2 linked regions of the Homo sapiens genome follow. The protein of the gene in region 1 purifies or fractionates together with the protein of each later gene. This does not show direct contact. Each region holds a gene or a part of one and is shown on either strand. Other genes may lie near its edges.

Region 1 (3,752 bases):
AAGCACATTGGGATTACAGGTGTGAGCCACAGTGCTGGCCTTTTTTCTTATGTTAAAATAATGTTGAGAAACAAATGTTATTAGGAAGATTTAAGTAACAAATAACCTTCTGAAACCATCTGGATAGCCCTGCTTTCTCCTTTTTTTTTTTTTTTTTTTAGATGGAGTCTTGCTCTGTCACCCAGGCTGGAGTACAGTGGCGCAATCTCGGCTCACTGCAACTTCTGCCTTCTGGGTTCAAGCAATTTTCTTGCCTCAACCTCCTGAGTAGCTGGGATTACAGGCGGATGCCACCACACCCAACTAATTTTTGTATTTTTAGTAGAGACAGGGTTTCACCATGTTGTCCAGGCTGGTCTCGAACTCCTGACCTCAAGTGATCTGCCCACCTCAGCCTCCCAGAGTGCTGGGATTACAGGCATGAGCCACCATGCCCTGTGGCTTTGTCCTTTTAAGTTGACTTGGGGGACTGGGTTGGTGGTCTTCTTCCACATTTAGGCTCTTTTTATCTTCTCAGTCCTAATATGTTCTTCCCTTTATCAAAAATCAACTCCTGCTCTTTTCTTTTTTTGTCCAGAAATGTCTGAATGTCTGGGCAGTCTCCTGGTATCATTTACTGTATTCTAAATAGTATTTTTTTTTTTTTTTTTGAGACGGAGTTCCACTCTTGTTGCCCAGGCTGGAGTGCAATGGTGTGATCTTAGCTCACAGCAACATCTGCCTCCCGAGTTCAAGTGATTCTCCTGCCTCAGCCTCCCAAGTAGCTGGGATTACAGGCATGTGCCACTACGCCTGGCTAATTTTGCAATTTTAGTAGAGACAGGGTTTCTCCATGTTGGTCAGGCTGGTCTCGAACTCCCAACCTCAGGTGATCTGCCTGCTTCGGCCTCCCAAAGTGCTGGGATTGTAGGTGTGAGCCACCGCACCCGGCCTTGTATTCTAAGTAGTATTTAATAATCTGTCCCTTTTTTTTTTTTTTTTTTTTTGAGACGGAGTCTTGCTGTGTTGCCTAGGCTGGAGTGCAGTGGTGTGATCTCGGTTCACTGCAACCTCTGCCTCTCGGTTCAAGCAATTCTCCTGCCTCAGCCTCCTGAGTAACTGGTATGCACCATCATGCCTGGCTAATTTTTGTGTTTTTAGTAGAAATGGGGTTTTACCATGTTGGCCAGGCTGGTCTTGAACCCCTGACCTCAAGTGATCCACCCAACTCAGCCTTCCAAAATGCTGGGATTACCAGCGTGAGCCACTGCACCTGGCCAATAATCTGTTCTTTTATACGCTATTTGGAATTTATCCTTATGCCTCTTATTTTCTTTTTATTGCCAATTGTGAACTATCTTGACAAAGGTATACTGCTGGAATATATTATTTCATTAATAAAAATTCTAACATGGGCATTATAAACTACATACCTCCAATTCTTCAATAAATGTAGCCAAGTCTTCTTTCCACAAATCTGATGGACTCTTTCTTTTTAATGTGTCCAGCTCTTGTTCCTTCATAAGATAATTACAAAATTGAGTTAATATATGTATACAAGCAGCATTTTCATGCAACACACAATTTTACTTTTACCATTAGAATAGAACAAAACTAAGCAGCATGTACCATCCTACTATCAACTCACTTTTTCATTTCTTAGCCTGCAGAGTTCATCTTTCTTTTCCTTGGTTAAATACCAAAGGGGCATATCAAGAAGATAGTTGAAGGTTGGTCCAGAATCTGTTACGGAGTCACTCTTTTCAGTTTCCTTTTCGTTGTCACTCTCTTCATTTTCTTCTTCATCTGGAACCTAAAGGATTAATTAAAATCTAGCTTTATTAGAAAATGTGAAACATAAACATTGTACAATACATAGTCTTTAACAATATAGAAAAGTGCCACCCAAGATTACCTTTTGCTGGGCTTCTTTCCAGGCCTTCACAGGATCCGAATCATATCCCCTCTGAATCAGAACTTTAATTAATTCTTTCTTAGGCTTATTTTCTATTTTTAAAAAAGTAAACAGAGATAATGATTTTGAGTAATATTTTAGGAAGGGGATAAGGTTTTACACAAGTCAAAAGTTTAAAACTGGAAATTAAACTGTCTTCGTGCTTGCATAAATTTGTATATCCCGGTATACAGGCAAGTCTCCCTAAACCATTGACAAATGTAAATTACCACAAGGGGGCAGTCAAATCATATATGATCAAATCATTTTTTTTTGGAGACAGGGTCTCTCTCACTCTTGTGTCCAGGCTGGAGTGCAGTGGCACTACCTAGGCTCACTGCAGCCTTGACCTCCCCAGCTCAAGTGCTGAGATTACAGGCATGCGCCACCACACCCAGAGAGTAGAAGCCATTCGTAATCTTCCTGCCTTTTTTTTTTTTTACCATCAGATTTATTATCTCTTCTCTGTCTCTTTTATTTTCTGTTCCTGTAGACATGATTAGTGTATCTATTCTCTTGGTCAATCAGTTTATGCAAGGTCTTCTAGCTCTCTATTCTCCTCATGTCTAATTGTCAACTAAATCTTGATTTCTCAAGATGCTCAGTCAAGGAAACATCATCTCTTTCAAACTATAAATACCTAATCAGATATTTTAAAGAAATGCGTGTATAAGTGACCAGGTGAATTAAATGGATTTTGCCTCTTTCTCCACCATTACTCTCACCAAAAATGTTTAAAGAAAGTTTGGCGTAACTAGAGTTTTAGTAAGCAGTTATTATTCCCAAAACATACCAATGATTATTTTGCCATCTATTTTCTCTAAGATAAAGCGAGCCTGATTATTCAGTTTAGCAGATTCAGCACCAAGCATTCCTAGGAGCCATTCTTTTCTTAATCCATAATATTTAAGTCTGAGTTCAAAAAAGTCTCTTAGAATATCCAACACCGTGTCATATTTCTTTAAACAGCCTACGTGGTCAAAAAGCACCTGAAAAAGGAAAACAAGATTAGAGCCAAGAATAGACAAATTGGCTAAACTTTATAAAGGTAGACTAAGATATACTTTTAAAATTGATATTAATCTTTAATATAAATTGAAACGTGTACATCTCACAAAACAAATACATACCATAGAGTTGCATGTGAGACTAGTTTGGAGTTTGAAGACTTTGTGTAGTCCAACTCTCTCTGCCTCTGCCAGTTTTTCTTCAGTCATCTTCACAACAAATTTCACAGTGGTATCTGTATGGTATTCCCTATAGTCTGTTATGAGAGGAGGTGTCTTCTCGGTGCCATTCAACATGGGTTCTAGAACTTGTTCTTTGTATGTCTAAAGAAAGAAATAATCCTGAAGTTTCTAAAATATAGGCTTCTGAATAGTCAACAGCAATAGTACAAAAGGTATTTCTTTTGATCACAAACCTAAAAAAGAAATCCATAATTATTTACCTGGGTCCATGTTCTGACGGGAAGCTCTGAGATTTCAATGGTTGTAGAATTAAGAATAGCTACTTCACCACTAATCACATATTGATTTGGAGCCAGTTCTTCAATAGTACCCTTGAAGTTCTTGTAACTTGGAAGCTAAATTGGCATTTAAAAAAACAGTATGTTTTCTAAATGTGATACTAGACGGAAATCACAACAGCGTTTAACAATAAATCTAAAGTATGAAATTAAATTTTATGTTTGCATCATCTTTAATCATACAATCTATTCAACTGAAACCCAAGGAAAAGTTAAGGCTCTTAACACACACAGAATACTTACCATTGGCAAAGGTTCTTCTCCATCCATCAAACGCCTGATGTTATTTAC
Region 2 (3,752 bases), on another chromosome or scaffold:
TGATGGAAATGTAAATTAGTACAACCTCTATGGAAAACAATATGGAGCTTTCTTAAAAAACTAAAAATAGAACCGCCCTTTGATCCAGCAGTCCCACTACTGGTATCTACCTTAAGAAAAAGTAAGCATTATATCAAAAAGACACCTACACTTGTACATTTACCGCAGCACTATTGACAATAGCGATAATGAATGGAATCAACCTAAGTGTCCATCAATGGATTATTGAATAAAGAAAATATGGTATATATACCATGGAATACTACTGAGTCATAAAAAAGAATGAAATCATGCCTTTTGAAGCAACATGTATGGAACTGGAGGCCATTATCCTAAGTGAAATAACTCAGAATGTCAAATACTGCAAATTTTCATTTCTAAGTGGGAGTTAAACAATGGGTACACGTGGACATATAGAGTGGAATAATAAACAGATATTGAAAACTCCAAAAGGTGGGAGGTTGGGAAATGGGTGAGGGTTGGAAAATAACCTATTGGGTACAATGTTCACTATTTGGATGATAGTGACATTAAAAGCCCAGATATCTGAGCTTCACAATATACCCATGTAACAAAACTGCACTCGTACCCCCTGAATCTATAAGAAATAAAAATAAAGAACTGATTAATTTTATGTCAGACAAATGTCATGCCCCTAGTTGCTTTTGCACTGAAGAACTAGGCTCAATAAAACCACATACTATTCCACAAATTAACTCAAAATAAATCAACTTCCCTAGGAAAATAAAAAAATAGAACAACTGTGTCTTCACTACTAAACTCCAGAGAGAACAGACCTGCTACCATTTTATACATTTAATATATTTCAAAAGAAAAAAACTGTACAAAATATGTTCTCTAATTATTGTGGAATTAAATTGGAAACAAAAAATAATACAAATCCCTAAATGTTTATAAATTAAATACCTAAATGTAACATCTATAAACCTTTAGAAGTTAAGCCACACATATCTTTTTTGTGTGTTTGGAGACAGAAAATCCTTCTGTCACCCAGGCTGGAGTGCAGTGGCACAATCTTGGATCACTGCAACCTCTGCCTCCCAGGTTCAAGCGATTCTCTTGCCTCAGCCACCAAGTAGCTGGGATTACAGGCGCTCACCACCACACCCGGTTAATTTTTTGTATTTTTAGTAGAGATGGGGTTTCGCCATGTTAGCCAGGCTGGTCTCGAACTCCTGAGCTCAGGCAATCCACCTGCCTAAGCCTCCCAAAGTGTTAGGATTACAGGTGTGAGCCACCACGCCCAGCCAAGCAACACATTTCTAATAAACCTATAGGTCAAACAATAAATCAAAAGGGCAAAGATAACATTTTTCCAAAACATTTTTAAACAGCTTTATTGAGATATAATTCACGGCTAGGCGCGGTGGCACATGCCTGTAATCCCAGCACTTTGGGAGGCTGAGGCGGACAGATCACTTGAGGTCAGGAGTTCAAGACCATCCTGGCCAACATGGTGAAACCCCGTCTCTACAAAAAATACAAAACTCAGCCAGGTATGGTGGCACACACCTATAGTCCCAGGTACTTGGGAGGCTGAGGCACGAGAATCACTTGAACTTGGGAGGTGGAGGTTGCAGTGAGCCGAGATTGCACCATTGCACTCCAGCCTAGGTGACAGACAGAGACCCTATCTTTAAAAAAAAAAAAAAAAAAAAAAAGGATATAATTCATAATTCATATACCATATAATTCATCCATTTAGGGTATATAATTTCAACTATTTTTCACATAAAGATATGTGCAACCATCAATAGTTAATTTTAGAACATTGTGTTATGTCAAAAAGAAAACCCATGCCCTTTAGCTATCACCTCCCCACCTCCCTTTTCGCCATGCTCCCCAACTCCAAGCAACCACTGAACCCTAAGCAACTACTTTCTGTGTCTACAGATTTCCCTATTCTGGAATTTCATGTGAATGGAATCATATAAATGGACTTTTTGTGACTAGCTTATTTCATTTAGCATAATGTTTTCAAAGTTCATTGAGGTTGTAACATGTAATCAGGATTTCAATCCTTTTCATGGCCAAATAATATTCCCTTGTATGGATATGTCCAGTTAAAAAAATCCATTTGTCAGCTGATAGACATTTGGGATGTTCCCATTTTTTTACTATTATGAATAATGCTGCTATAAACAAACATACAAGTATTTGTGAACAAGAGCAAGTTCACTTTGCTCTTGGCTGTCAACAAGCAGAAATTGCTGGATCATATGGTAACTCTATGGTTAAATGAGGAAAAAAGAGATACGTATTTTTAACTGAATAAAAATGAAAACACAACTTATCAACATCTGTGGCATGCAGGTAAAGCAGTGCTTAGTGGGAAATTTATATTTTTAAATGTTTATATTGAAAACAAAGATCCAAAGTCAATCTAAACTTCTACCTTTAAGAGCTAGACAAAGATAAGCAAATTAAACTCAAAGTTTAAAGAGCAGAAATCAATGAACTAGAAAATGGGCAAACAACAGAGAATTGCCAGGGAAACCAGACAATGGTTGTTGTAAAAATCAACAAAAATTTGAAATAGATTATAGAAATAAACATAAATATTTAAAAATATCAAAGCTGAATTTAGGGAAATAAAATACATTCTTTAAGCAAGAAGAGGCAAGGGTTTCTCAGGACACAGAAAGCATAACCATAAAAGAAGAAAATAATCAACAAATTATACACCTAATGCAAAGAAAAGCTTCTGTTCATCAAAAGGTATAATTAAAAATATGAATATGCAAAATCACAGGAAAATATACTCATAAATATTTGTATATTCTAGAAATTCCTGTATTCTAGATACGAATCTGACAAAAGATTTGTATCTAGAATATATAAAGAACCCCAACTCACTATTAAGAAGGCAAACAATCCAATTTTGAAGACTGGCAAAAGACTTGAACAGAGATTTCACAAAGATAAACAAATAGCCCATAAACACAAGAAAGTGCCCAACATCATTGTTTATCAAGAAAATGCACATAATAAACTAAAATGAGACACAAGAATAGCTAAAATGAAAAAGAGTGGCAATATCAAATGTTAGCAAGGGTGAAGAGTAACTAGAACTTTCATACCTTACCTGTAGGAATGAAACTAATACGACCAACTTTGGATATTTAGTAGGTTCTCATAAAGTTAAATATAAACCTACTTCTGAACCAACAATTCCACTTTTCAATGTCCATCCAAGAGAAATGAAAACATATGACCATGAAAAGACCTGTGCAAAGTATTCAAAGCAGCTTTATTCATAAAAGCTATAAATTGTAAACAACCCAACTATCTATCAACAAGGGAATGGATCAACAAATTGTGCTATATTCACACAATACTACTTACCAATAAGAAGGAACAATGTACTAAACAATATAGATAAATCTCACAGATACTATGGCAATCACAAATCATACTGGACTCTTTCTTGGTTACTTGATAAATTTGGCCTTTCATTGAGATTTAATCTTTCAAATGTATATGATACTTTCCATTCTGGTTGACTTAAAGCCAAGGTTCTACTTTAACCCTTTCCTCTCCTACTCATACTTACAGAACACACACAGAAGAACATACACAAAACTTAGAACTGTTAGCTTGCTTTACACTTGCAGAATATCAATATATCCACGTTTTCCACAACTCTAACTTCTCTCACTATGTTAAATTTGGCTAATTTCCAGGCAACTGTATATTCTCATTTTAAAAGGAGAGAAACATGGAAAGAAAAT

The links. The genes of interacting proteins can lie anywhere in the genome.
Region 2: the proteins of TOP2A (region 1) and ZNF451 purify together in Homo sapiens (affinity purification with mass spectrometry; 3 studies listed by BioGRID and IntAct, with this or other methods). This does not show direct contact.

What each region holds. Positions count from the first base shown.
Region 1 is NC_000017.11:40,397,146-40,400,897, forward strand, and holds part of TOP2A (DNA topoisomerase 2-alpha), read right to left. Parts: coding exon 3,705-3,752; intron 3,519-3,704; coding exon 3,384-3,518; intron 3,265-3,383; coding exon 3,064-3,264; intron 2,923-3,063; coding exon 2,727-2,922; intron 1,987-2,726; coding exon 1,895-1,986; intron 1,793-1,894; coding exon 1,628-1,792; intron 1,497-1,627; coding exon 1,413-1,496; intron 1-1,412. UniProt on the Homo sapiens protein: Key decatenating enzyme that alters DNA topology by binding to two double-stranded DNA molecules, generating a double-stranded break in one of the strands, passing the intact strand through the broken strand, and religating the broken strand.
Region 2 is NC_000006.12:57,142,165-57,145,916, reverse strand, and holds part of ZNF451 (E3 SUMO-protein ligase ZNF451), read right to left. Parts: intron 1-3,752. UniProt on the Homo sapiens protein: E3 SUMO-protein ligase; has a preference for SUMO2 and SUMO3 and facilitates UBE2I/UBC9-mediated sumoylation of target proteins. Plays a role in protein SUMO2 modification in response to stress caused by DNA damage and by proteasome inhibitors (in vitro).